4 separate regions of the Homo sapiens genome follow, and regions 2, 3 and 4 are each linked to region 1. Evidence: fine-mapped expression QTL. A gene starts in region 1. Each other region holds a variant in brackets. All regions are shown on one strand. Distances are from middle to middle. Region 1 holds the start of ANXA11 (annexin A11). Region 2 overlaps ANXA11 (annexin A11). Region 3 overlaps PLAC9 (placenta associated 9). Region 4 overlaps PLAC9 (placenta associated 9).

Evidence for each region.
Region 2: its variant is fine-mapped to the expression of ANXA11 in whole blood (INTERVAL, PIP above 0.99).
Region 3: its variant is fine-mapped to the expression of ANXA11 in whole blood (TOPMed, PIP 0.97).
Region 4: its variant is fine-mapped to the expression of ANXA11 in whole blood (INTERVAL, PIP 0.98).

The regions. Positions count from the first base shown.
Region 1 is chr10:80,202,610-80,207,917 of GRCh38, forward strand. ANXA11 (annexin A11) reads right to left here and starts at 2,928. Exons shown (of 16, transcript NM_145868.2): 1 at 2,734-2,928. It overlaps LINC00857 (long intergenic non-protein coding RNA 857), which reads left to right and starts at 5,101. Exons shown (of 2, transcript NR_038464.1): 1 at 5,101-5,308. RefSeq lists enhancers at 617-706, 1,207-1,286, 3,926-4,567, 4,338-5,308, 4,568-5,209 and a silencer at 2,272-3,151.
Region 2 is chr10:80,157,154-80,162,461 of GRCh38, forward strand. ANXA11 (annexin A11) reads right to left here. Exons shown (of 16, transcript NM_145868.2): 12 at 4,782-4,875; 13 at 1,947-2,042; 14 at 814-872; 15 at 488-610. Among named protein-coding and RNA genes, the nearest start is that of PLAC9, 27 kb to the left of the region's middle. RefSeq lists enhancers at 1,029-2,228, 1,326-1,867. The variant T/C (reference allele first, on the strand shown) is at 2,891.
Region 3 is chr10:80,144,416-80,149,723 of GRCh38, forward strand. PLAC9 (placenta associated 9) reads left to right here. Exons shown (of 4, transcript NM_001012973.3): 4 at 485-944. The coding sequence ends at 495. Among named protein-coding and RNA genes, the nearest start is that of PLAC9, 14 kb to the left of the region's middle. The variant C/T (reference allele first, on the strand shown) is at 2,354.
Region 4 is chr10:80,132,782-80,138,089 of GRCh38, forward strand. PLAC9 (placenta associated 9) reads left to right here. Exons shown (of 4, transcript NM_001012973.3): 1 at 1-45. Among named protein-coding and RNA genes, the nearest start is that of PLAC9, 2.7 kb to the left of the region's middle. The variant G/GTTTATTTA (reference allele first, on the strand shown) is at 2,233.

The DNA of each region.
Region 1 (5,308 bases):
GGGTGTTGCAGAGAAAAATCCAGAGAAAGTGAAAAGTCTACTTCCTTGGCAGTGCTGGTGAAGCATACCCTTACACAGACGCTTCCCCATGGGAACAAGTGCCAGGAACTGCTTCAGGCTTACGGGGGAAAACAGTGGCTAAGAAGAGAGAGGAGGCCGGGCACGGTGACTCATGCCTGTAATCCCAGCACTTTGGGAGACTGAGGCAGGCAGATCACCTGAGGTCAGGAGTTCAAGACCAGCCTGGCCAACATGGTGAAGCCCCGTCTCTACTAAAAATACAAAAATTAGCCGGGCATGGTGGTGCATGCCTGTAATCCCAGCTACTCGGGAGGCCAAGGGAGGAGAATCATTTAAACCCAGGGAGCGGAGGTTGCAGTGAGCCAAGATTGCATCACTGCACTCCAGCCTGGGTGACAGGGCGAAATCTGTCTCAAAAAAAAAAAAAAAAAAAAAGACAGCAGAAGAAGAGGGGTGAATCCAGGAGGAAGGAGGGGGTGCACCAGAAAGGTCCCAGGACCTCTGATGTTCCAGCATTCAGCATGCATTTTGGTTCCACATTCAGCTCCTGCCCACACCAGTTTCTTTTCTCTATTCTACAATTTCCAAGAAGAACCCACACTAACCTATTCTGTCTCAACTCCCACTCCTGTCATCCCAAGCCACACATCACCTCCCCAATCACGTGAACTAGGCATCACTAATCGATCCTGGCCTTCTAGACACATCCACCCAGGGTGGGCCCTTTCTATAGTATCATGCATAAAGGCGTCAGGTGAGGCTTCCACTCCCACCTCTTAGTCCCAATTCATCTCCATCTCACCCTCCCCACGTTTCTCTATCCAAACCCAGCCTTCAAGGTCCTATATTTTAACCACAGGGAAACCACTTCCCTGTGCTGTCTCTGTTGTTCAACTAACGACAACTAATTTTCTGAGCACCTACATTAGGCAAGGCCCATCCTGAGTGCTGCCACCAAGAGGTAAGTCAGAAACAGCCCCCACCCTCCAGAGTCAGAGGACAGGGCAGCGATAAGCCACACCGCCACACAAATACTATGCAAGGCGAGAGATGAGAACCGAGTCAGTGCCAGAAGGGCTGAGTGAGCTCAGAGCATATCCCGTCCCTCCTGCTGGGAGCAGGCACCCGGATGGCTCCCAGGAGGGTGGAGAATGCTAGGCCAGACAGGGGAGGGAGGGCATTCCAGTAAGACAGAGAGCATGAGCTTAGCATGAGCTAAGCCAGAAAGACGGTTCAGGAGAAGTGCATTTCAACTTTAGCTGAACCTTCCACTGCTACTATTTATTGACCCTTACACCTGATTATTTATGACCCAGGCCTGCCTCACACACTTTATGGCTAATGTGGGTGACACCCATCTGGGATACACAAGTGTGGTGCAGCAGTCACCACCTGTTCTGACTGGTCCGTACCTGAGCTCTGTATTGTTATTAAATAAATGAATGCACTGAATCTCACAAGCCTGTGAGGCAGGGATTACTATTACCCCCATTTTACAGATGAAAAACCAAAGCACAGACAATAGTCAAAGAAAAGATAGCAAGGTATGCAGGAGCCTGAAGTAGTGGGCACCCAATGCCAGGGCAACAAACTGCCCTGGCACCTCACCTGGCCTCTCTTATCAGGGAACACCTTGCAGCACAAAGAATGCCTTGAGGAAAGGGGCCCTGTTAATCCCCTGGAATCCCCAACAATTGACTGCCGCATAAAAGGAATGAGGAAAGCAATGAGAGCCAGTGAAGGGTGAGCATACCAGGCCCTGCCCTGCAAACCTAGTCCCTGTTGCGTGGGCAGGGCAGGGCAGGGCAGGGCAGGGGCTCGGCCTCACAGCTCCACTCCATGCCCAGCGCAGAGAACAGAGGGGAGAGCTACCACAAACGCCGAATCTCTACAGAGAGGTCAAGGATTGGAGGGCAGAGACAGAAATGCCCCGGGCTGACTGTTTCCAGCTTGGGCTAGCACTGGCTGGCTTAACTTTTCCCCTCCAAAGTCTCTAGGTAACAAACTTCGCGTGTCTCCTTTAAACCAACAGACCATTTTACCTAAGTCTTAAGGGCCTGGCCTGCACCCATGGGAGATACAAGTCCAGGAATCCCTTCCTGAAACTGGGGATCAAGGTTGGGGAAGGGGCGAAGGCACGCACAGCACCTGGGATGGCTCCCGCATTCCCTCAAACACTGGGGAGAGTTCCTTACAAATAAACTGCAATGGTAGCAGCTCCCAGGAATGTGCGTGCTCCCAGTTTCGGAGGAAAGTTCCTGAAGATAGCCTTCTCTGCTTAATCTCCCCAAGCCTCGCCTAGAAGGGCGCGCGCACCCTGGAGGGCTCCGCAGGGCTGCGGGGCCGGGCCTCCGGCACCCCTCCCGCCACCCGTTGCCTCCTGCGCCCAGGGTCACGGCCCCTGGCCCTACCCAGGCCCAGACTGAGACCCCGACCCCTGAGCCCGGGGGGACGGCGAGTGCACCCCGACCACACATGAGGGAGCAGCCCCAGACGCCGAGGCTGATCTAGGGGGCTGCCAGGCCGACACGGCCCGCCCGCGACCCGCCGACGCCCTCCCCTGCCCCCCACCCCCACGCCTGTAGTGCAACCAGGAAGCCGCAGGGCCGCGCTGGGCTGGGCGCCAGGCAGCCCCGGGCCTCACCCGCGGCGCCGCGGTGCACTGCCGCCGCCTGGTCCCAGGCCCCCAGCCGGCTCGGGACCCTCACTCACCTGGCCACGGGGACTCCGGACGCGAGGGGCGAAATGGGACGTGGGCGGGAGTGGCTCTCTCCGCGGGCGTCCCGGGCGCGGCGCCTGGGTTCTGCCTAGGGGCTGGGTCCCACTCCCGCTCGCGGGGCCCGCGGGGCACTCGGGGCACTGGGGAGCCGCGGGCGCAGCAGCCGTCAGCGCCGGGCGGAAAACTCCGCGGGCGCGGCTGCCCCAGGTGCCAGAGGCAGTGCAAGGGAGGGGCGGGGCCTGAGCGCGGCCCCGCCCCCAAGATGAGGACTGGGCACGGCGGGCCCGCGAGGAGCAGCAGCCTTCCGGCTGCGGAGCTGCTCCAGGAAGTCTCGGGCTCCGGAGGTCCCTCTGCCGCCCCTAACCCCTGCGGCGCCCAGTGCCGCGCAGAGCCGCATTCGCCCTCCTGCAGGGGTGGGCATTTCCTAAGTCCTCTCCAGCCCCGTGTGCGTCGGTTAGTGACTCTCTTTAAGGTCGAGAAAACTTTTTACACTGAAAAGGTCAAACGCATTTCCTTTATAGCAACACTCGGTGGTGGTGGAGGGGGGAAGGTCACGCACAGTATGTGAGGAAGGGAGCGGTCAGTGACTATCGTGGAGAAACCTGACAAACCACCCAGCCGTCAAGGTGACCTCGACAGGGGTAAATCATACTGATTGCATGCACCGCTTGTGGTCTTCCTCCCAAGAACACCTAACCCCACTGTAATCATGAGGAAAACATCACAAATCAATTGAGGCCCTTGCCATATACATGACCAGTACTCCTGAAAACTAGCAAGGTCATCAAAAACAAGGAAAGTCTAGGACACTGTCACAGCCAAGAGGAACCCACGGAGATATAAAAATGACTTAAGATGTTAATAATAGGAAAAGCCCGGGTTTATGAGAATTCCCTGTATTCACACTTTTTCTGTAAATCTAAAGATGTTCTAAAAATAAAGCATATTTTTAAAAGGTCACCCAGGTAATATATGCATATATGGTAGGTATACAATTTTTTTTTTTAATGAGTGGTGGCTGACGCCTGTAATCTCAGCACTTTGGAAGGCCAAGACAGGAGGATGGCTTGAAGACAGGGCTTCCAGACTAGCCTGGGCAACATAGTGAGACCCAGTCTCTAAAAAACTAAAAATAAAAAATTCAAAAAATGAGTAAAAATTGAGATTCACTCTTCCCTCCACTCCCCCAGCCCACTCTTAGGTGTGTCCTTCCAAATATCTCTCTTTAACACTGTGTGTGTGTGTTTACATAAACGTATTGTTTACAAAACGATATTGCAGTACTTTTCTGCAACATGTTTTTTTACTCACTATATCTTGGAGGGTCTTTCCATACAAGTGCTCCTGAACAGACCTGGTTCTTCCCATCCACTGCACACTGCGCGCCATCGTGCGCTTCACCATTCTTCATTACCTAGCTCCTTACTGAAGGACATTTAGGTTGTTGCCTATGTTTGGCTGTTACAAACAAGCTGCTGGTTCGATTTTCCTTTTTTTTTTTTTTTTTCTGAGACGGAGTCTCGATCTGTCGCCCAGGCTGGAGTGCAGTGGCGCGATCTCGGCTCACTGCAACTTCCGCCTCCCGGGTTCAAGCGATTCTCCTGCCTCGGCCTCCTGAGTTGCTGGATCTACAGATGCCCACCACCACGCCCGGCTAATTTTCATTTTTAGTAGAGACGGGGTTTCACTATGTTGGCCAAGCTGTTCTCGAACTCCTAGGCTCAAATGATCCGCCCGCCTCGGCCTCCCAAAGTGCTGGGATTACAGGCGTGAGCCACCGCGCCCGGCCCGATTTGCGTTTTAAAGTCGCTCTGAACAATAAAATCCGGAAGGACTGGAGGGGAGGCTCCGACCTTCTCCCTGTCTGGGCAGGTGTGCTGGTGCCGGGCAGGAACGGTGCCTTGGGACAGCCTGGCCCCGGCCTCACAACGGGCCCCGGGCGCTCAGTCATATTCCGTGGCCGCTCCAACACCCCCTACCCCCACCAGCAGGCGCGGCTCTCTTTCGGGGCTGGACTGCATTTTTTGGACATGAGTCGGCGAGTGAGGGTGAAACTCAGGCCAAAGTCTCCAGAGCCGCTCGGAGAAAACGCTGCCTGGAACAGAAGAGCAGAGGATCAGAGGCACCACCAGAGACTCTCAGAGTGGGTTATTACCCTGGTGGGGGCGCCTGCTGCGGCGTAGGAGATGGCGGGACTGGGGGCGCGGGTGTGAAGCCCCCAAGAAATCTGTGTGAATTTCCTGGGGAGGTAAGGTCTCCAGGCGCTCTCTCTGGGCCCGGGGATTGGTCCGGGAAGGTCTCCTGGCGCCTACCCAGCCCCCACTGCCTGGACGCCTGCGCCTGCTCTGCCGCCCCACAGCGACCGCGAAGGCCAGCTTCTTCGAAAGGCCCATTTTTCTCCGTGGCTGAGCGAATGCTCCTAGAATACCACGTTTATAATAAATCATGTAGGGTGGAATTCCTGCTGGATGTATACACCTTTCTGCATCAGAGCTCTTCAAACCCAGAATGGTGAATAGCTACCCCTGGGCTTACCCTTTTATAATTTTCAACAAACCTGCGTTTAGC
Region 2 (5,308 bases), 45 kb before region 1:
GGGAGCCATTCAAGGTCACACAGTTAGCAAGTAGAAAAGCTGGACTCCAAGTGGCGTGACCCCCAGGGCCCTCGCTCTGAACGGCCTTACTATGTGGCCTACGCCATAAAGCTGAGTGCAGGAAGTGCTTTGTCAGGGAGTGACAGCAGAGCTCCACAGAGCCTTTGGGACATGAGTTCTCACTGACAGATCAAGGAATCACACGGTGATCGGAACGCTGAAGGTCACGGTCAAGGTTGGGGAGGTCCCGAGTGTTCTCTGATGCTGCTGGGGGATGCAAGGTGGGGGCGACAGCAAGGTCATGATCCACCTGCCCTCAGAAATTTATAATCTGTTTAAGGGCAAGGGGATGAACAAGTCCGAGGTCCATAATCAAGATGCCCACACACAGCACAGAGGCCAAGCATATGGCCACTCCAAGGAGGGAGGTTCCACAGGTGACTGAGATGCCAAAAGGGAGCCCAGTTGGCCTGCAGCAGGCCCGTACCGAGATGTCGTGGTACAGCGACTTGCCGTACATCCGCTTATACTCTGATCTGATGTCCAGGAGGTCGGTCTCGCTGCGAGACACCATGATGCGAATCAGGGTCCGGTCCTTTGTTCCTGCCCCCTAAAGAGAGTCCACCCAAGAGCATGAGCACCAGGCCTCCTCACCTTCCCACCTGCCCTGGGCCCTCCAGTCCCCTCCCTACCCAGGTCCTCGGAACTCTCAGCTGAGATTTAGCTCTCCCCAGGCCTTCTGCCCTCAGCCCTTGGTCCCAGGCACAGGCGAGGCTAAGGTTCCATCGCAACCTGCACATGGAAGTTACATACCCTCATGGCCTTGTTGAGCCTCTCCGCAAAGAAGGCTGGGGTATTCTTGAGACATTTCACTAGAAGAGAGAAACTCGGCATAACCAGATCTGCAGAAAATTCTCAGCCCAAGCAGGGCATGGAGTCTACAAGTGTCCTCTTAGAGGCCCAGATGTCAAACCCATCACTGCATCCATCTTTTCTCCTCCTCCTTCTGTTCCAGGCTCAACTATCCCATGATCTTGGCTCCAGCTATTTGGAACAGAAACACGCAAAGCCTGGAAACCAACCCACCCTCTTTCCTGGCAACCACTGCGGTGAAAGGACCAAGAGTCAGAGGGGCGGGGGTCTTAGTGGGGCTAGGAGCTACACAGGGAAGCAATGTGGATGGTGATGAGGAACTGTGCTGCTGCTCAGGCAGGAGGGGCAGACTGGAGAGGCCATGACCGTCATGGAGAAACCGTGGCTGAGTGGAATGTGCATCTCCCTAGGCTTCCCAGGCCATGAGACCTACTATGGGGGACAGGCAGGGAAATGAGGATTTTCCATCTCTCCCATCCAGAAAGCTCCAAAAAAAGCATAATGAAAAAAGGGGCAGACTGATTTTCCCAAGTGAGTAGAAAGAGGGGTTGTGAGGGCCTCAGGGCAGGGACCCAACTCTGCACAGTGGGAGGGCCCTGCTAGAGGACATGGGCAATGTAAGAGGCACACCACCATCCTGGAGCCAAGCCAGCTTTCCTCAGCATGGGCCTGTTTCGCTGCTGCAAGTAAAAATCTTTCCACGTGTTTCCATCACAAACATCTGACAACTGCCTGCAGGGATGTATTTTTAGAGGAAACGTGGCAGGATATGAGTCATACTCCTCCGGGAGCGCAGTTGGATGCCCTCCCACTAATACCCACACTGCAGTTCCCTACTCCAGAGCTGCACCGCAAACACACACAAGACACCTCCAGGACAGCTAGGGGTTCAACTGCACAGGGAACCGGGAAGCAGCATGACTTCCCAGCATCTGGACACTCTGGGCTGAGCGATCTTGGATCCTGTGGTCCCTTCACGGTGTCACCCATCAGCTGGAGGACAGGCGAGCAGCCTGAACACTCACGATACACGTTAGCCCCTGGCAGGTGGGCGGCAAACCTGAGACACTTACCCACGGCCAGCATGCCCTCCTCCAGGTCCCCGGACATCTCCCGGCAGATGCTCTTCTCAATGTCCCGGCCTGTCATTCTCTGGTACTCATTGAAAACTATGGGGATGACAGAGGCTTATATTATGAACTGAAATGTGTCTCCCCAAAGTTCATATGTGGAAGTCCCAACTCCCAGGACTTCAGAATATAACCGTGTTTGGAGATAAGATCTTTAAAGAGGTAATTAAGTTAAAACATGCTGCTAGGGTGTACCCTAATCCAATTCGCCTGGTCTCCTTAGAAGAAGAGAAGATTAGGACACACACAGAGATCCCAGGGATGTGCACATGCAGAGGAAAGACCATGTGAGCACAGTGATTGTCACGAAGAGGCCACGGGAGAAACCGGCACCCCACTCTTGGATATCTGGCCTTCAAAACTGTAACAAAATGAGTATCTGCTGCTTAAGCCACCCAGTCTGTGGTATTTTGTCATGGCAGCATGAGCAGACTAACAGAGGACTCACATGAGGTGGCCTCTGCCCCAAAATCTCCCACCTGCCACTCTGCTCCCACACCCTGCACGTCCCCAGGCCTGCTAGCGCTCAAGGAAGTCAGAGTCTTCGTCACAAGTTACATGCACCACCTGATGTCCCTCCCTGTGTGGTCCCTTTCTCAGGACTGCCAATCTGCTTAACCAAATCGCACCTTAATACCCCTCCAGGGCCCACTCCCATGTACTCCAAGACAGTGTCCCCTCTTCTCAAATCCTCCACACCTCCAGTCTCTGCCATTCCTTGGCTTTATTCATGCATCCATCTGTCTTCCTCAGCCTGCCTGTGAGCTGAGGCCCAGCCTGCCCCAGCCAGCCTGGCTTCTTGCTGCTCACCTCGACCTAGGACACGCTAAGCACCCACAGGAGTGGATGGCTGGCTCCTAGAGAGACAGGTGGCATGATGGAGACCT[T/C]GGTCCTGACTCCAGTTCTGACCCAGGACATAAAACTCTCCTTCCCCAGCCTGAGTCTCAGCTACCATTTGCATTTTAAAGTTGTGATTTCTGCTCTGTGTGTATCTGTCTCAATTAATATCTTCTTCCAATCAGCTACTCTTTTCTCCTAAGTAATAATGTTTGTGAAGCCATGGGCTTGATGCACTACTTACATGTTCTGTACTCATTAAAAGAAATAATGATTAAGATGAAAATGCTTTCACTCAGGCTCCATTACAGGATAGTGCAGAGGTTAAAAAGTGTGCTCTGGGGTCGGGTGGTCTGGGTTCAAATCCCAGCTCAGCTGTTACTAGCTGTGCACCCCTACTTCCTCTACCACCCTGTGCCTGCTTTCACAGCTGCGAATGGGGAGAGCCACAGCGCCTGTCTCTGTGTGCAGCACAGAGCGGTCGCTGGGTTTTCACCCTCACTGCCCACTGGAGCAGCCCTGGCCACAGCCCACCAGTTGCTCCGTGTGGTCACCATCCTCAGTCCTTGCCTGCCACCTCACACTGGCCTCCAGGACCCCCTTCCTCTGCGTCCTCCTCCCTCCCTAGCTGCTCCTTCTTAGTCTCCTCACACCGGTGGGCTCCCCACAGTCTCCCTCCTGAGGGGACCTCCTGCAGTCCCAGAGCCTCAGATAACTTCAACTACCCATAGCTCCCTTACCTTCCACAACCAGGCCAGACCTCTCCTGACCTCCACACTCAGCAACCCAGCAGCCTCCCTGCAGCTCCACCCTACAGGCACCTAAAGCCAGCTCCACCTACAGTCCCCCTGTCTCAGTTGAGGGCCATTCTCCCACTGCTTGGCCTAAAGAAACCCTGTATAATCCTCGAACCCTCTCTCTCCCACACGTCACGTGTCCAATTCATCAGCAAACATGGCCGGAACCTGACACCTCCTCACCACAAGCCCCTATTACCACCATTCCTCCCCGGGTCCCTGCAGCAGCCTCCCGACAGGCTTCGCTGCTTGGCCTTGCACCCTTCACTCCATTCTCGGCACCACAGCCAGGGATTCTGCACAGCCTCCTCTGCTCAGGGCCCTCCACTGGCTTCCTCTTTTGCTCAGGATAAATACCCAGCTCCGGGAAGTCATCAGCAGGGCCCTCTCCCCTCTCTGCCCTCACCTCCCACTCCTCTTGCTCACTCCACCTGCTCCACATGGTCCCCCTTCACTGTTCTCAGTCGTGCTGGGAGCCCCAGGCAGGCCTCTGCCCCTGCATCTCCCTTTAGGTTTTTAAATCAAATGTCACGACCTCAGTGGGGACTGGCCCAAGCACCTCCCGGTGGACCCTACCATCACTCCCTACCTGTTTCCAGCTTGATTTTCCTCTACAGGATTTCCCATCTGATACAGATTTTATTTCATTGTTGTTTACTGTCTGTCTCCCCAAATGAGAAAGTGCAGCCCATGGAACACACTCTGCAGTGCCCTGCCCCCCACCGTGGCCCCACACCTGCTCCACCACCTGACAGACTGACCCATGCGGGAGCGCGATTTACATCTGTTGAATGAATGAGTAAATGAATGGCACCCAGTTTTATTGTTATGACTGTTTCTTATGCCAGGCTTTGGAAAACACTGGATTGGGTGCTCCCGAAGGACCCTCCCAACTCTGACGTTCCACATTCCCACGTACAAAGACACCAGGTTTCTACACCGGTAGAACCTCCAGAACTGGATGTTTGCCAGAACTCAGGAAACCCTCTGACAGTGTCTTTTAAATTCCCACCAGGGGGCTCTTTTGAGGAGGCGAAAGCCCCACGCAGGGAGGAACGACCAAGTGTTCCCATAGCTTTGTTTCCCCACAATCCCCTGACTGCCCTCATCTAACTGGCCTCTGAGGGACCCCAGCCTGCCTTACCTGCTACCAGGTGGGCCCGGCTCCGGGAGCACAGAACCGCATTGAACTTGGACTCGTCTGTTCCCAGGCGGTTCTCCCCGGCCGCATACAGCTCCTGGAGAGAGAGGAAGACGCACATGTGGCACAGGCCACACCCAGACCCCAGGCCCAGGTCACCCAGGAGAGCCTGGTAAACTTCTGAAGGTTTGAGCCTAAAGTATTTGCCAATTTGCAACCTCTGAACTAGATGGCCTCTAAAGTGCCTGCTAGGCCTCAGGTAGCAGCCCTGAAAAAGAGCAGAAAGCAGCAATCAGGGGCTGAGATCCCACAGGTCAAGATGAGGCCAAAGCAGCTCTGGACTGAGAAGGCAGAGCATGAGACAATTTTTGCCCCGCTAAAAGTGGCATGCAAAACTCTCGCTGGAGCAAAAGCCAGAGCCCTGAGCCCCAGGCGTGTCCAGCCCTGACTCCCAGAATGGGAATGGATGTTACCAGCCAGAGAGACACTGAATAAGGCAGACCCTGCAGGAGCAGCAGGTCTGAGACCAG
Region 3 (5,308 bases), 58 kb before region 1:
GGCTGCTCCACTGCACAGGTGTAGCCTGGCTGGCAGGGAGGGCCCCAGCGCTCCCTGGGGACGGAAGCGGGACGGCATCATCCCTGCTCCCCGCCCGCCCCGCCCCACCTGCCACACCCGGTGGCTGCCGCCCAGTGTCAAATGAGGTTCTGGAAGAGCCGGCCCTAGATGCCATCTCAGCACAACCCCTGCGCGGAGAAACTGCCTCCTTCATTAGCCTTCTCACGACTGGAGCTTCTCAGCTCCTTTAATTTTCCCCTGAGCAGCCACTCCTGTTCCACCCCAAAACTCTCGCAGGGAAGACGGGCGTCCCCACTGATCAGGCAGGGTTGGGGTTGCACTCTGCTCTCTCCTTGATCCTTGTGTCCCGCGCGCAGTAGTTCCTGGGGGCCGGGGAGGGAAGGGAAGGAACTGCTGGGCACCACGGGGGCAGGTACTCTGCGGCACCCCAGCTTGCTCACTGGGGGCCTCTGCTTTCTTTCAGATGGCTTCTGAGCCCTGGAGCTGGAGCCCAGCAGTTGGAGGTGGTGCACCTGCCAGGCAGCGCCCACAGAACCAGCCCTGTCCTCTCGACTTCCTTCCTTAGCTTCATGTGAAATAAAAGCTATTCTGGTCTCCTCTGTGTCTGCTGACAGAGTAACCCGTTTAACTACAGCCTCCTCTCACTCCACTTCCATGCCTGGAGGAAGCCTGCAACCCCCTCCAGGCTCAGACCTGGGGACACCCCCACTCCTGTCATTTATAGGGGCAGATGGAGCAGGGGTTGATTCACACAGATGGGGGCCCTTTGAGTGGCCTTGCTTCTCAAAATGTGGCCATAGGTGAAAAGCAAGGGGATCAGGGTCTCAGGACCCACCCAGACTGTTTAATCCAAATCTGCATTGCAATGAGACCCCCAGGGATTTTATGTGTCCATTAAAGTGGTTTGTTGTTGTTTTTAAAAATTTTTCCTATGAAGTGAAATTCAATGTAAAATTCATCATTTTAACCATTTTAAATTGTACAAGGCTGGGGGCGGTGGCTTACACCTATAATCCTAGCCCTTTGGGAGGCCAAGGTAGGAGGATCACTTGAGCCCAGAAGTTTGAGACCAGCCTGGGCAACATGGTGAAACCCCATCCCTACAAAAAAATACAAAAATTAGCCGGGCATAGTGGCACGTGCCTGTAGTCCCAGCTACTCAGGAGGCTGAGGTGGGAGGATCACCTGAGCCCTGGAGGTCAAGGCTGTGGTGAGCCATGATCATGCCACTGCACTCCAGCCTGGGAGACAGTGAGACCTTGTCTCAAAAAAAAAAAAAAGAAAAAGAAAAAAAATTGTACAAATGCAGTGGCTTCCAGTACATTCAGAAGTTGTGCAGTCATCACCACCAGTTCCAGAACATTGTTCTCTCTCTAGAAAGAAACTGTGTATCTATTAAGCAGTCACATCCCATTCCCGCTCCCCACACCCCACTGGAAACCACTGATCTCTGTCTTCACGAACTTGCCTATTCTGGACATTTTAAATACAGTAGTCCGGCTTTATCTGTGGTTTCACCTTCCATGGTTTCAGTTACCTGCAGTCAACCACAGTCCTAAAATATTAAACTCCAGAAATAAACAATATATGAGTTTTCAATTGCACATCATTCTAAGTGGCGTGATGAAATCTCTTGCCATCCCACTTCATCCCGCCCCGGATGTGAATGCTCCCTTTGTCCAGCATGGTCCACGCCGTCTACACTTCCTGCCTGTTAGTCACTTAGCAGCCTTCTCAGTTACCAGATCAATGGCCACAGTATCACAGTGCTTGTGTTCCAGCAACACTTCTTTCTCTTAATCAAGACCCAAAGTGCAAGAGCAGTGCTGCTGGCATATGGTTGTTGTTTTTCACACAACTCTCCCTTCACAGAAGCTGGCATATTGTTCTAATTGTTCTATTTTATTCTTAGCTATCGTTGCTAATTTCTTATGGTGCCTAATTTATAAATTAAACTTCATAGGTATGCATGCATAGGAAAAAACATAGTATAATAGGATTAGATACTATTGTGGTTTCAGGCATCTGCTAGGGGTATTGAAATTTATCCCCTGAAGGTAAGGGGGTAGTACTGTAGGTAGAATCACACAATACGTAGTCTAGCTGTATCTGGCTTCTTTCTCTGAGCATAATGTTTTCAAGGGCCATCTGTATTGTAGCATGTATCGGTACTTAATTCCTTCTTACGGATGAATAATGTTTCATTGTATGAATATACCACATTTTATTCTTTTATTTTTTTAGACAGAGTCTCGCTCTGTCACCCATGCTGTAGTGCAGTGGCATGATCTCAGCTCACTGCAACCTCTGCCTCCCGGGTTCAGGCAATTCT[C/T]CTGCCTCAGCTTCCTGGGTAGCTGGAATTACAGGTGCACACCACCACGCCTGGCTAATTTTTGTATTTTCAGTAGAGACAGGGTTTCACCATGTTGGTCAGGCTGGTCTTGAACTTCTGACTTCTTGATCCACCCGCCTCAGCCTCCCAAAGTGCTGGGATTACAGGTGTGAGCCACCACACCTGGCCCACATTTTATTCATTTATTCGACAATTGAGGGACATTTGGGTTGTTTGCATTTTTTAGCTATCATGAATAATGTTGCTATGAACATCCGTATGAGTTTTTGTGTGAATATTTGTTTTTTAATTTGTTTTGGGTCTATATGTAGGAATGAAATTGCTGAGTCACATGGTAACTCTTACGTTTAACTTTTTGAAGAACCACCAAACTCTTTTGTATTGCAGCTGTACTATTTTACATTCCCACCTGCAATATTAGCTGTGGCTTATTCATAGATGCCCTCTAGCAGGTTGAGACATTTTCCTTCTAGTCTTAGTTGAGTGTTTTTTTAATCATGAAAGGATGTTGGGTTTTTTCAAATGCTTTTTCTGCATCAATTGAGATGATCATGTGATTTTCCCCTTTCATTTTATTAATTACATGCATTACATCGATTTTTTTTTTTTTTTTTTTAAGACAGAGTCTCACTCTGTTGCTCAGGCTGGAGTGCAGTGGCACGATCTCAGCTCACTGCAACCTCTGCCTCCCAGGTTTAAGCAATTCTCCTGCCTTAGCCTCCCGAGTAGCTGGGATTACAGGCACCCACCACCATACCCGGCTAATTTTTGTATTTTTAGTAGAGACAGGGTTTCGCCATGTTGGCCAGGCTGGTCTTGAACTTCTGACCTCAGGTGATCCACCCGCCTTGGCCTCCCAAAGTGCTGGGATTACAGGCATGAGTGAGCCACTGTGCTTGGCCTGATTTTCATATATTAAATGACCTTTGCAGTCCTGGGATAAATTTCACTTGGTCATGGTGTATAATGCTTTTAATATGCTGCTGGATTTAGTCTGCCAGCATGTTGTTCAGGATTTTCGTTCCTGGGCCACAATTCTAGACACACCCTGGGCTGGAAGGGAACCCACTGCCTTGAAGGAAAGGACCCAGTCTTGGCTGCATTCATTGCCTGTTAACTGAAGAGCCCTTGGTCCCTGAATAACCAGCAGAGATACCTGGGTACTATGCTGAGGGCCTTGGGTGAGACTCGGTCTTGTCGGTTTCAGGTTCAGATTCAGCCAGCACATTCCCAGCTGTGGTGGTTACAAGGCAAGATTCCTGCTAGAGAAAAGTGGAGGGAAAAGTAAAGTGGGCTTTGTCTTACACCTTAGATACCAGCTCAACCACAGGACAGTAAAGCACCAAATGGTTCTTGGGAATGCCAATTCCAGGACTTGTCTCTTAGATGGCATTTATGGACCTACCCTGGGCCAGAGGGGCGCCCACTGCCCTGGAGGGGGGGGTCCCATGCCAGGCAGCATTCACCACCAGCTGGTTGAAGACTCCCTGGGCCTTAAGAGAACATCAGCAGTAGTCTGGCAGTACTCCCTGTGGGCCTGTGGTGGCGGTGGCCATGGAGTGAGGCACCTCTGCCTTGGGAAAGCGGAAGCAAGAGAGGGAAGGACTGCATCTTGTGGATTCAGTGCCAGCTCACCTGCAGTATAACAGAACACCAGGTAGACTTCTAAGATTTTTTACCCTAGTTGCTGGCTCCCAGATGGCACCTTTGGGCCCAGCTGGGGCCTGGAGGACCTTGCTGTTCTGAAGGGAAGGACACAAGCCTGGCTGGCTCTGCCACCAGCCGATTGTAGAGCCCCAGGGCCTTGAGCAGACACAGGCAGTAGCCAGGGAGTGGTAACTGCAGGCCTTGGGTGAGAGCCAGTGCTGTGCTGGCTTTCAGGTCTGACCCAGTGCAGTCCTAGTGGTGGTGGCCACAGGGGTGCTTGTGTCCTTTCACCCCCAGCTTCAGGTGGCTTAGAACAGAGAAAGGGACTCCCTTTGTTTGGGAGACAGTAACGGAATGAACAAGAGTCTCTGTATGGTAATACAGAGAATCCTGAATCTTGTCCAAGACCATCAAGGCAGTAACTCTATGAGGCTAAAAAAAAACCAAAGTGTTATTGGGCTTGGGGTGAATCCTTAAGCAGATACAGCTTAGAGCACAACACCCAAGCCATTCAAATATCTGGAAAGCCTTCCCAAGAAGGATAGGTACAAACAAGCACAGACTGTGAAGACTATGATAAATACCTAACTCTTCAATGCTCAGACACAGATGAACATCTACAAGTATCAAGACCACCCAAGATTTTCCTTTCAGCACACTGAATATGTCATCTCATTGCCTTCTCACTTCCATGATGTTGGATGAGAAATTGGCTATTAATCTTATCGAAGATTTCTTGTACGTGTCCAGTGGCTCTTTCTGCTTTCAGGATTTGCTTTGCTTTTGGACAGTATGATTATAATGTGTTTCAATGTCACACTGAGTGTCTCTTTGAGTTGACCCTACTTACAATTCATTGAGCTTTTTGTATGTGTAGATTAATGTCTTTCATTATGTTTTCAGCCATTGTTTCTTTAAAAATTTCTTCTACATTCACTCTTCTCTTGATTCTTATTAGGTGTATGTTGGTACACTTGATGGTGTCCTGCAGGTGTCTTAGGCTCAGTTAGCTTTTTTGTTGTTGTTGTTTTCTTTCTGCACCTCAGAATGGGTAATCTCAATTGACCTATCTTGAAGTTTGCTGATTTTTGTCTTCTTCCTTTTTAAGTCTGCTCTGGAACCCTTCCAATGAATTTTTTATTTGTGTACTTCTCAATTCCAGAACTTCTATTTGGTTCCTTTTTATAATTCCAGTCTCTTTACCAATATTGGTGAGACATCATTCTCCTGGTTTCCTTTAGTTCTTTGACCTTTCTGAAAATAATTGACTTAAAGTCTTGTCTGTTA
Region 4 (5,308 bases), 70 kb before region 1:
CGCTGACCGGACTGGCCCTGCTCCGCGCCGCGGGCTCTTTGGCCGGTGAGTGGGGCGCAGGGCGCGGCAGGGGACCTGGAGCCGGGGAGACCCGCAGATGGCGAGGAAGGAATGAGCGAGAGAGACGGAGAGAGAGCTGGACACAGCAGCGAGATGGACAGAGAGGCAGATGCAGGGAGGGAGGGATGGAGAGAAAGATTGAGAGGAAACAGACTCAGAAAAAGGCAGAGAAGTAGAGCAACGGAGAGATAAAGGAGATAGGGAAGAATACACAGTGAAAAGGAAAAAGGAGAGGCTGAGACAGAAAGAGGCTTCCCCTGAACAGATATGAACTAAGATAGAAAGAAAAAGGAGTTTGAGAGACAAAAGAGAAGAAGGAAAGAGAAAAAGTGATTAAAATGGCAAGGGGTGGAGGGAGAGAGGATATTGAAGAAAAGAGAAAGATTTGAGAGAGACCAAAAAGGAGAGAGAGGGAAGCTCGATGCCCGGAGTAGAGCTGGCAAGAGAGAAGGAGCCAGGATCTGGAGTGGGAGGTCACAGCTGCTGGGTGGGGCAGCCCCGGAGGCCAGCTCCATCTCAGAGGGCCTGTGGAGGCTCAGGCCTGGCTTTATAGGACATTGCATAAGAAGCCACACTCCAAAGGATGAGTGACCCAGGCTAGCCCAGCACAGCCTTAAGGAACCAGGCAGTCGGGCCCAGGAGAAAGGCCACCGATTCACCTGCCAGGTGGCCTCAGGTGGATCTGCAGTCAGTGAAGAAGTCAGCCTCCCGGTTTCCAGGGAGCTTCTCTGGGAAACTGAGCTATGTTGGGTGGAGATGGGGGACTGGGTGGAGGTGGAGAGCTGTGCGGAGGAGAGAGGCTGTCTGGGTACTCCATTAGCTGGGTTCCTTGCTTTTCACTGTCCGCTTTCTTCCCCTCACCTACCCCTCAGGCGGGCGGATCACAAGCTCAGGAGATCAAGACCAGCCTCGCTAACATGGTGAAATGCTGTCTCTATTAAAAATACAAAAAATTAATCGGGCGTGGTGGCACATGCCTGTAGTCCCAGCTACTCGGCAGGCTGAGGCAGGAGAATCACTTGAACCTGGGAGGCGGAGGTTGCAGTGAGCCGAGATCAAGCCACCGCAATCCAGCCTGGGTGACAGAGCAAGACTCAGTTTCAAAAAAAAAAAAAAAAGAAGAAGGAAAGGAGGAAAGTATTCATGTATTAGTGTAATTTCACACTGATTTCATATATTTTTGTGCATAATCTTTCAGATTTTAGATGATATATCTTAACTTTTGATTATGAAAACTTTTGGATACAAAAAAATACAAAGTAATAGTATGTGAAAGAATCATGTAATATACTTATCAACGCTGCTTCAAGAAGTATCAGTTCATGGGCAGTTTTATCTCATCTATAGCCTCCACCCTCTCTCCCCTCCCTGGATTATTTTAAAGGAAATCCAGGCATTGTATATTTTCTTTCTTTCTTTCTTTCTTTTTTTTTTTTTTTTGAGACAGGATTTCATTCTGTCACCCATGCTAGAATGCAGTGGCACAATCTCAGCTCACTGCAACCTCCGTCTCCCGGGTTCAACTGATTCTCCTGCCTCAGCCTCCTGAGTAGCTGGGACTACAGGCACGCACCACCACACCTGACTAATTTTGGTATTTTTAGTAGAGATAGGGTTTCACCATGTTGGCCAGGCTGGTCTCGAACTCCTGGGCTCAAGTGATCCACCTGCCTTGGCCTCCCAAAGTGCTGGGATTACAGGTGTGAGCCACAATGCCTGGCCTGGCATCATGTATTTTCATCTATAAATATTTCTTTGTGTACCTCTAAGAGATAAGCACTCTTAATAAACATAACTGCAATGCTATGATCATACTCCAAAAACTGTGTGTGATTGAATATCATTAAATATTCAATCACTGTTCAAATGTCCTTGATTGATTGTGTCATATCTTTTTGCAATTCATTTGTTTGATCCAAATAAGGTTACATACACTGCATTTGGTCAATATGTCTGTTAGATCTCTTTAAATATGTAAGTCTTCTCTCCCCTTTTTTTACTTAATTTTTTGTTTTTGTTGAAGAAACTAAGTTTGTCCTGTAAAGTTTTCCACATTTAGATTTTGCTAATTGCATCCCTTTTATGTCATTTAAATACCTCCACCCCTTATATTTTCTATAAATTGAGAGCTATCTCTAGCACGTCCAACTTCCAACCTTGGTTTGTTTGTTT[G/GTTTATTTA]TTTATTTATTTATTTATTTATTTGAGATGGAGTCTCGCTCTGTCTCCCAGGCTGGAGTGCAGTGGTGCGATCTCCGCTCACTGCAAGCTCCGCCTCCCGGGTTCACACCATTCTCCTGCCTCAGCCTCCCAAGCAGCTGGGACTACGGACGGCTGCAACCATGCCCGGCTAAATTTTTTTTGTATTTTTAGTAGACATGAGGTTTCACTGTGTTAGCCAGGATGGTCTCGATCTCCTGACCTTGTGATTTGCCCGCCTCGGCCTCCCAAAGTGCTGGGATTACAGGTGTGAGCCACTGCGCCCGGCCTTTTTTTTTTTTTTTTTTTTTTGAGACAGAGTCTTGTTTTGTCATCCAGGCTGGAGTGCAGTGGTGCGATCTCAGCTCATCACAACCTCTGCCTCCTGGGTTCAAGCAATTCTCGTGCCTCAGTCTCCCAAGTAGCTGGGATTACAGGTGTGCACCACCACACCCAGCTAATTTTTGCATTTTTTAGTAGAGACGGGGGCTGCGGGGGAGTTTCACCATGTTGGCTAGGCTGGTCTCAAACTCCTGACATCAAGTGATCAGCCTGCCCCGGCCTCCCAAAGTGCTGGGATTACAGGCATGAGCCACCGCGCTGGGCCCAAGTCTTGGTTTCTTTTAGCAGCACTCAGAGAAACCTTTATCCCTGATGGCTTTTTAGACCATGAGCCACCACGCCCGGCCCATATTTTGGAGTTTTTTATAAAATCACTTGAAGAATAGTTTTCTGCTGCTTTCAAAAATGATCAAAACCCGTGGATGGTTTTGAGTGAATCATACATTTTAATACAAATATTGGATGTGGTAAATTTATTATTCTATTATGTTGAATGTGGTCAAATATAATTAACCCCCAAGTGGCCAGGGTTGCTTTTCAAAGCAGAGTGTGACTTTGACAATTCAGAAGATACAGCGGCACCTTTCAGATGCCACTGAGAAAACATTTCTCAACCCCCAGCATGCAGAAATCATCTGTGTTGTGGCCCTTTCTTACTGTTTGGGTCCAGATACAAAAGGTCTCCCCATAAGGCCTGTAAGTAGAAGCACCCGTACTTCCGCCTCAGAGGATGGGACCCAGGGGCCACGTCTCTTTAACTGGGGCAGCCAGCCCAGCCGAGCCCTCCTCTGGGGCCTCCGGGCTCCACAGCAGCGTGTTCTCACCAGCACAGGATGCCCCACCCATGGCCACCATCCAGGGTGCACATCAGGCCCCTAGCAGGAGCCGGGCCAGAGAAAACAACGCAGCATCCAAGGAGGTCCATTTCCCAACTGGCAGGGCCTGGGAGAGCGGGAGGAAAGGAAGGAAGGGAGCCCTGAGGAGCCACAGCCTTGGCTGCTCAGGGTTAATCATCATAATCCTTCAGTCTTTTCCACTCCCCTTGTCTGAGCCACTGACAGCCCTGTGGTGCATGTGCGTGTCTACTATTTTTTATTCATTTATTTATTTTCTTACAAGACACAGTCTTTCACTGTCACCCTGGCTGCAGTGCAGTGGTGCAATCGTAGCTGACTGTAGTCTCAAACTCCTGGGCTCAAGCGATTCTCCCGCCTCAGCTTTCCAAATACCTGAGACTACAAGTATATACCACCAATCCTGGCTAATTTTTTTTTAATTTTTATTTTATTTATTTATTTATTTATTTATTTATTTATTTTTGTAGAGACAGAGTCTCACTATGTTGCCCAGAGTGACCTCAAACTTCTGGCTTCAAGCGATCCTCTTGCCTCAGCCTCCTAAAGCTCTGGGATTACAGGTGTGAACCACCGAGCCCAGCTCGTCTAGCTAATTCTTGAGGCCTCTCTGCAGCCTCCAAAAGACAGAAGAATTAAGGATGCGCTACACGGGGGAGTCAGGGCCTCAGGCCTACCCTACCCCATTTTATGTAAGAGGCAGCAGAGGCTCAGGGAGCAGAAGAAACTTTCTCACAATCCCACAATCATTAGTGGCTGAACCAGGCTGAGAAAAGGGGTCTCCAGCATGTTTTCTACCATGATGCGTTCAAGTCAGCGCTGTGGTGAGGATGCTGGCAGTACAATGTCAGGCCCTGCTCCAAGCTTGCTCTCTCAGATGCACTCTGTGGAGGCCCCGATGAGCTCACGGACAGTTGCTCCAGGGTGCACAAAGCACAGTTTTGTCCAGATGTGAAGGATTAGTGCTGAGCCATGTTGGGAGCGACCTCAGCCCAGCCTTTTCCCTGGAGGGGTTTTGGAGCCAAGTTAGACCTCATCACAGACACGTAGAGAACAGGGTGGTTTAGGCCAGTGGAGGGGAGCAGGCTCTGGTTGTTCTGACTTCCAAAGCAGCCAGACTCCCATTTGGCTGGCAGGGTCACACTGCATCCCCCTGGCCTGAGCCTTACACGGGAGAGTGGCTAGGGTCTGGGAGAGGGCAGGTGAGCCTCAGAGAAAAGGCTTGGCCAAAGGCCTCTGGACAGAGCCAGCAGGGGGGTATGTGTATCCACAGACTCATGACAACAGGCCCTCCCCTAGGACGGCCACTCTGTGGGTGACAACAGAGGCCCCCTCAGAGCTTTTCCTCTCCAAGCTGAGCAGCCCAGTTTCAGCTGAGAGAATTGAGTTAAAATTTGGAGTCCCAGACTGGGTGCGGTTGTTCACTCCTATAATCCCAGCACTTTGGGAGGCCGAGACAGGCGGATCACTTAAGCCCAGGGGTTTGAGCTTAGCCTGGGCAACGTAGTGAAATCCTATCTCTACAAAAAATACAAAACGTAGCCAGGCATGGTAGTGTGTGCCTGTAGTCCCAGCTACTCTGGAGGCTGAGGTGGGAGAATTGCTTGAACCCGGGAAGAAGAGGTTGCAGTGAGCCATGATTGTGCCACTGCACTTCAGCCTGGGTGACAGAGTGAGACCCTGTCTAAAAAAAAAAAAAAAAAAGAGGAGTCCCTTCCCATAGCCTCCTCTAGACCTGCTCCTGCCTCTCAAGGGCCTTCTCAGGATGTGGGGCCAGGATGGAGCATAGCCCCCAGGGGCCTCTCTCTCTCTGAATATTTTACATGAATGCCTGCAGCCCACAATGGCTGCTGCTTTCTGCT